2 linked regions of the Homo sapiens genome follow. The protein of the gene in region 2 interacts with the protein of the main gene of each other region in a biochemical or structural test. Each region holds a gene or a part of one and is shown on either strand. Other genes may lie near its edges.

What was found.
Region 1: the proteins of TNIP3 (region 2) and STAT1 form a complex in vitro, tested with the Homo sapiens proteins (one study listed by BioGRID).

The regions. Positions count from the first base shown.
Region 1 is NC_000002.12:191,004,076-191,007,897, forward strand, and holds part of STAT1 (signal transducer and activator of transcription 1-alpha/beta), read right to left. Parts: intron 3,587-3,822; coding exon 3,488-3,586; intron 1-3,487. UniProt on the Homo sapiens protein: Signal transducer and transcription activator that mediates cellular responses to interferons (IFNs), cytokine KITLG/SCF and other cytokines and other growth factors.
Region 2 is NC_000004.12:121,154,006-121,157,827, forward strand, and holds part of TNIP3 (TNFAIP3-interacting protein 3), read right to left. Parts: intron 3,239-3,822; coding exon 3,089-3,238; intron 675-3,088; coding exon 546-674; intron 1-545. UniProt on the Homo sapiens protein: Binds to zinc finger protein TNFAIP3 and inhibits NF-kappa-B activation induced by tumor necrosis factor, Toll-like receptor 4 (TLR4), interleukin-1 and 12-O-tetradecanoylphorbol-13-acetate.

The sequences.
Region 1 (3,822 bases), on a different chromosome or scaffold from region 2:
GGCAGTAGTCCCTCCAAGTCACTCAAACCCTTGGTGCTCTCTTACCCCTTCCACTCATCCCTCCCTGCTTCCCTCCACCCTGCCCCCATCTGCTAAGCAGATGCTTGGCTGCTCCTGTACACTTTAGTACTGATACCACTTTCACAGTGAGTCCTTAACTTTTTAACTTTCTAAGAAACCAGGAGTACTGAAACCACGGGAATTTCAAACACTGAAGTTGGAAGGGACTTCGGCTGTCATTGACTCTTACTTTCTCGTTTCACTACTGTACCTCTAGAGACCTTGTTTGGATGGGAACTTGGTTACTCCAGACCCCAGAGCAAAGAAAAGTCTTCTGCTCAGGAAGGGGGTCCTTTCCAATGGAGTGAGCAGTTGTCCAAGTAAGGGAATAGGCACTCCATGGGTGTGAGAAGTTCCAGCCAGAAAGCCCTCATATCCCATCCCACAGATTAGAAAACTGAAAAGTGACTTCTCCAGTGAACTAGTTTTAGAGTTGGACAATACTGGGTTTAAATTCCAAACCTACTTCTCATTAGCTCTGTGGCTCTGAGTGAAGTACCTGACCTCTAAACCTTAGTTTTCTCATCTTTAAAATGGGGATAAGAATACCTAACTTCAGTGATAGTTTCGAAAGTATTTACTCAAATGAAATAATGTTTATAAAGTGCTTAGCACAGGGCCTGAAACATGATAAGCACTCAGCATATGGTAACCATTAGTCCTTAAGAACACAAAGATGGAACAGCAAAGGAAGCTTAGAATCCACCTCATGTCTTTCCCTCCCACCTGAAAGAAATTCTCCCCATCCCTTCAGACCCTATGGACCTAAATTTTTGTCTAGACATGCAACTAGCTTTTTCACCACAAAGAAAAAAAGAAAGAAAAAAACTTAGTGTGCTGTAAGACAGCACACGAAACATTTATAGTCTACTACAGTGTGTATAGCATAATATTCTCTTAAATGTATTTTCTAAAAGCTCTTATATTAAAAAACAATGGGAACAATAATTTCCCATCTCGGCATGTCTATAGAATTTTGTGGTCTCTAAATGATCTGAACTAACTCGGAATTTTGCATGTTTTTAACTTGTTGAATCTGTTGAATCCCCATGTACCTATCACAGTTTCAACAATTAGCATTCATGGATGGCCTTGTTTCATCCCTATTCTCCTTACTCTTCTAGTCCCCAAATGGGATTATTTGAAGCAAATACCAGACATCACACCATTCCATACACATATACTTTAGCATGAATAGAATATACACAGTCATGTACCACATAACAATGGTTCAGTCAACGATGGACCGCGTATATGACAGTGGCCCCATAAGATTAGAATGGAGCTTTATGGGGGTACCACCTTTTATCTTTTACACACTATCTGTACTGTACCTTTTCTATGTTTAGATACACAAATAACATTGTGTTACAATTGCCCATAGCGTTCAGTACAACTTCATATTGTACAGGTTTGTAGCCTAGGAGCAATAGGCTTTACCATATAGTGTAGGTGTATGGTAGGTTATACCACCTGGGTTTGTGTAAGTGCACTCTATAATGTTTGCACAAAAACGCGATCACCTAGTGGTGCATTTCTCAGAATGTATCTGTGTCATTAAGTGATGCATGTCTGTATTAATAAAATAAAGTTACTTCAACAAGGGGGGAAATGGTGAAGAAATGTTTCTGACCTACCTAGCCAATAGTTGGCTGGATAACTTTGGAAAGGAGGCACCTATTGTGCCTTTTCCCTTTCCCTGACATCCCCAGACACCCAGAAACTTCCCTCACACCCCAAGAAGGCTTTGCAAAGGTGTTCACGGACTCAGGTGTCCTCTGAGAGGCTCAAAACAATCCCCAGATTACCTACATTTTTAATGGGGAGGGAGCTCAAAAGCTGGTAAACCTTCAAGATCCAAAGCCAGGGGATGAGGTTCATGTGGGAGAGCAGGGGTCACCTACTCTGCTGCCAATGCCATCTCTGGGCCAAGGGGCCAAATGTGAGGATGACATGCTTGCAGCTGGGGGAAACAGGTTGTCCTTCTGCCCATCTTTGCTCCTGGCTGTCCTTTCAAGTCTATTAGAAATACAGAGGAGGCCCACGCATACTACTTTTAGGATGGAAGCCCCATATAATCAAAACTGCCGGCTGAAAATCTCCCAGGTATATGCCAGGTTAGAGACAGGCACACCTCTTTCAGAGGAGACAACCTGGCCAGCTTCTCCTCCAGCGTTGATATACACCTTTGTTCCCTAGGCTGGGTACCAGATGAGCTAGCCAGCTTGAGTTTAGAATAAGCAATATGTATCTTTACATGCTCAGTTCAGCAAGATGCTATCAGTGTGACAAGAAGATGGGAACTATACGCCTAGGGAAGTGACAGGATTACAAGGACTGGGACAAATGCTCAGGCAGTGTGTGGAGAATGGCATCCTCCACCACACCTAAACTCCCTCCCTCTCCACTGTCACACAGTTCACTTCGGTAGTTATTTGTTGGTGAAATGCACACAGGATGCATACTGTGTCCTCTGGCATCCATATAGCAATGGGCTCCTCCAGAACAATCCATAACATGGTGGCTTCACACTGCCTGCCTGTTGGCTTGTTGTCACCACCCCAGTGCTCAAGAAAGGAATACTAAATGCCATAGCAAATTCAAAACTCTGCTGAACCCTGACAACTAGGAAGGTTTGTATTAGGATTAATAAAACAATGATCAAAAATCTTGATACTAGTACAACTCTGACTCATTTACTGTTTGATGCCTTGAATATTTAATAGGTATCTTGATGTTGCTCAAAACAAAGCCCTTGATTTTCCCATCAGCCTCCTTTTCTCTCCACAAACCTATTGAGTCCTACAAAACTCCTGCCCCTGCCCCCTCCTTGCCTTCCCAGCTCCGTGTACAGCATTACCATTTTTCAAGGGGTTCTAGTAGCTGCTGTAGAGCCATCCTTGACTTTCTGCTCTCACTCCTGCATCTAATCCTTCAACATAAGGATCCTTCTATATTGGTATCACATCCAAAGCATAACCTGAATCTGTCCACCTCTTCCTACCTCCACTGATTCTACTGAGCGCAAGCTTCCACTGCCTCTACCTTGGACAGCTGCAAGAACCCTCTATCTGCCTGCTTCCATTCCTGTGCCAGCAACTCAGAGGCCTTTCCTGACCCTGATCTAAAGGAACAACCCCACTCCCAGCCACTCCATGAATTCAGCATGTTATCTTCTCAGCACTTTATGCTACCCAGAAGTATCTTGTTTATATGTTCTCTCTCCTCGTTAGAACTTAATTCCATTAGATTAGGATCTTTCTTAAAGCCTGGTTCTATAAAATCTCTAAATCTGATTCTCCCACTTCTTGGGGCTATAAAATTAGAGAGATATTCATCATTGCTTTGACATGGGCCCTAATAGTATTTGATGAATGAATACATTTTTATTTTATTACAGTTTATGTGTTCAATGAGAAAAAAGTACCTGATTAAATCTCTGGGCGTTTTCCAGAATTTTCCTTTCTTCCTTCAGACAGCTGTAAATGATCATAGACATCTGGATTGGGTCTTCCTGAAAATTATCCTAGATTTGAGTGGTTAGAACAAAAATAAATTAAAATGCAGAATGTTTACTTTATTGTGTATTGTAAGTTGATATGAATTTGTTTATATTCTCCGGGAAACCTCATCTCTCATCTATTAAATTCTATATAAGCTATGTTTGTTAAAATCAAAATATTTCTTTCACGAATTATGACAAAAATTGCTTTAACTTTCTAAGTGCAGGTACCTAACGTACTTTTTGATTTAAAAACAAGT
Region 2 (3,822 bases):
CACACACACACACACACCCCTGCATGCACACACGCACACTTTTCCTCTCTCTGACTTTAAAGTAGGTTTAAAGTAGGTTTTAGGCTTGCACTTGAGAGAGCTATCATCTCAGCCTTGGATTCTGCATTTAGCATGCTTCCTTAGAGTGTGTTTCACACCCAACTCCATAGTGATCATTTTAAAGAGCAGTTTGTTTCCTGAGGAAGCTTTTGCGGTTGACCAAGAGATACGTTATTGTTCGCAAACACCCACTTGCTTTATGTGGTTCTTCAAACTAAGAAATGTTCTTACTGTCTCTGTAATTCCTCCTCATTTCTCTTTCTCATGATGAATCTTTGTAGGGACAAAAATTCTCTAAAGCCTCCTTAGCCAAGTATGACTGAAAGCTGCAGCTAGGAGTGATTTATAAAATCACAGATAATTTCTTGTGCAAGCCTCCAAGGCTGGGACCCACACTGCAGCCTAGATTTTGTTGCGACTGTCAGTAAGAATGTTTTATGCAGGGACTTCTCATTTTAATCTCCCATGCTTGACCTGACTGATACCTTATTGAGGCGTTTTATTTCACATTCGTAATGTTCCTTTTCCTTGTTCGCAAGAGTATTTTTTCCCTTTAAAAGTTTATTCTCTTCTTTCAATTCATGTAATTCTTCATTTAGGCGTTCCTTTTCCTTCTGAAGTTAAGACCAAGAAAAGAAAATAAAAGTCAGTACAAGTCAAATGAGATGATATTGTAGGAATTCTGATATATCAGCCATGGCAGGCAGATTGAGGGGTCACCCTTCTGAAATACAATAAAAACAGGACCTGCAAGACTTTAAACTTAATGTTCCATTTGAGCAATATTCTTTGGATGCACACTAGAATTAGGATTGAAGGAATCTTTCTTTTATCAGAATTTACTGAAGTATCTTAGAAATTTTGTGACCCCAGGAAAAAAAAAATCAAAATTCCCAATTCTTTTTTTTTTTTTTAAAGACGAATTCTCACACTGTCTCCCGGCCTGGAGTGCAATGGTGTGATCTCAGCTCACTGCAACCTCCGCCTCCCAGGTTCAAGCAATTCTCCTGCCTCAGCCTCCCTAGTAGCTGGGATTATAGGTGCCTGCCACCACGCCCGGCTAATTTTTTATATTTTTTAGTAGAGATGGGGTTTCACTATGTTGGCCAGGCTGGTCTCAAACTCCTGACCTCGTGATCTGCCCGTCTCAGCCTCCCAAAGTGCTGGATTCCCAATTCTTACTTTCAATTATCAGACAAATGGGTCTGCAGGATAAGCAAGTCCTTATATACTGTCACTAGGTGATGGATAAGTGATTAAGAAAAATAGCTGAAAGTCTTAAAAAGAAAAAACTCTCATTGTGAGAAAACAATACTAAATATCTCAAAGCTCATTCCTGCATCATTCTGTATTAGAAAGAGGGAAAAGAGAATAATCCTTAGGCCAATAAGACCTTTCATTACAGATCATTATTTAGAGCACTCTATTGTTGTGATTATTATTTTTAAAAGGTAGAAATCAACTAGTCCAACTGCCACCACTCCTCCAATTTTAGATGACAATCTAAAATTGTCATCCAGAAGTGCAGTGTTTTAAACAACTGAAGGTTAGCTGCGTAAACATCAACAGGCTCTGGATTCAGACAATATCTCCTACCTCTTAATTTTGTATAATAGATAGCAAACATTTTGTGAAGTAAATTGGATTCTTAATGAGATTGAGATTTTAACCCAGTAAAATAAATATTGCAGAAAATAGGTAACTTGACATGCAAAAATAGCTAATATATGTGTTAAAGTGTGTTATTTGAGTAACTAATATTTCCCAATATGATTATTAAATTTAAGAAATCCGCTTTAGGTAATTCATTTTCTTTAAAAGGGAAAATATTTCTATTTGCTTTTATTTAAATAGAATGAACATATACACTTAGAAAATAAGCCAATTATTTTCTAATTTAGCATAATTTAAGAGAAAATTATTCCAATAAGATAATGGTCCCAACTGCATTGAGGGAAAAATTACTCAGATTCCTGGCTAGAGTGTAATTGGAAAAGGAAATGACTGCTACATGGCAGAAAGGGAGTGTTGCTAAACTCTGTTTTCCTGACTCACTGTGACAAAGACATCCTCAGCAAGATAGGAAAACCTGGACTGGCATTGTCTGCGCGAATTTCAGACATTGCCTTAAGATTTGTACATGTTTTAAAATATTGCCATTGCCTCACGATATCAGTGATAAGATTTCCCCTCAGAGTCTTTACACTTTGTTTTTTCTTACTATACCTAAAATAACGAGGGGCCATTAGAGTTTAAGGTTTCCTCCCATTTTCTACAATATTCATGAAGTCCAATAATTGAAAGTAAAACCAGGAAGAAAAAGTGTTCTTCAGGAAAAGCTGTCATCTCAATTGTCACCATCCAGTTCTCAGCAAGGGACTGATAGAGCTTTAGAATCTGGAGGTTGGGTTCAAGTCCTTTTTCATCAACGTGGGCAATTCAATTTGTTTACATCTCAGCTTTCTCATTTTTAATATAGCAAAAATAATATTTTGCTCACAGGTGGGCCAAGAATGTTAAATGAGATAATGAGGACGAAGGCTTTAAAAAATGTCATAAATTTATGGTGACAGAAGTAAGACCTCATATATAAATCTCTCTGTAAGCTTGAAAAGCTACTGCACAAATACAAGGTATTGCCATATTATTATTATGAACACTACTAATAAAAATAATAAATACGAATAAAAGCAAAAGAAAAAAAAATTTCTCCTAGGCTGAAATGCCCTAGAGAGTTAGCAAATTTATGGATCCGTTTTCTTCTTCCTGGAAGGGACTGGGGAATGACTGTCTGCCTATTTATGCAAACCAGGAGGAAGCCGGCAGAGAATCTCCTTCCTTCTTATTCTAGAGAAGTGACCCTTGTTCATGGCTCTTGGGGACTTGCGTAACCCATGCACCCTTGCACATCGGTCGTTGCTCAGTAGTGAGTTGATTTTAATAAAACGGTAGGTTTTCTACAGGAAATCCCCCCGCCCCTTTGCTTTTATTTGGATCCTCCGGGCTCGAGGACCCGGGCCCCGCCCACCTCCTCCCGCTGCAGCCGGTCCCGGGTCAGGTCGCGCTGCCTGTCGTCCTCTCTCTGCCTGTCGTCCTTTCTCTGCCTCTGATGCGGATCCTTCTCCCGCGTGCTGAGGAATCTTTCCGCGGCGTCCAGTTTCGTCTTCAGCTCTGCTACCTGAGGAGGTCGTTCAAAGACAGCTGCAGATACCTTCTCTGAAGCTCACAAGCCCCTGGATTTATTCCCAGGCTATGAACTTTGGCAGAAACGCCCCACCCCAGGACGTCCCCTAAGGAGAGGTTCTAGCTCCCACCGTCCCGAACACAGATCGGGATACTCGCGTTTCAAAGGGAGCTTGGCCTTGCACCAAAACAGCCTTCTTTTCTCCAAACCACCCAGCTCTTCCTTCTTTTCTCCAAACCACCCCTACTTCAGAGGGGATAAAAGACTTAGACCCCACCCAGGGGAATCTGTAGGTTTGTCATTCTATTCTCAACTCTCCAGGTGAGCCTAGCCTGGTCTGGAAAGGGCAATGAGGGGCAGCAGGTTAAGTAGCATATGCCTACACCAGAGAAAAACAGACATGGCCTTTAATTTATCAGTAATTTGCAGCACTTGACCTCCTACTAGGTGCCAAATCACTCTGATGACAGAGTGACAGGTCCTCAGAGTGGCCACAGTCCAGAGGGAGAATCTTAGAGATGGATGCATCTTCCAAGATGGAGATTATAGCCATCACTAACACTGTCTTCACACACCTG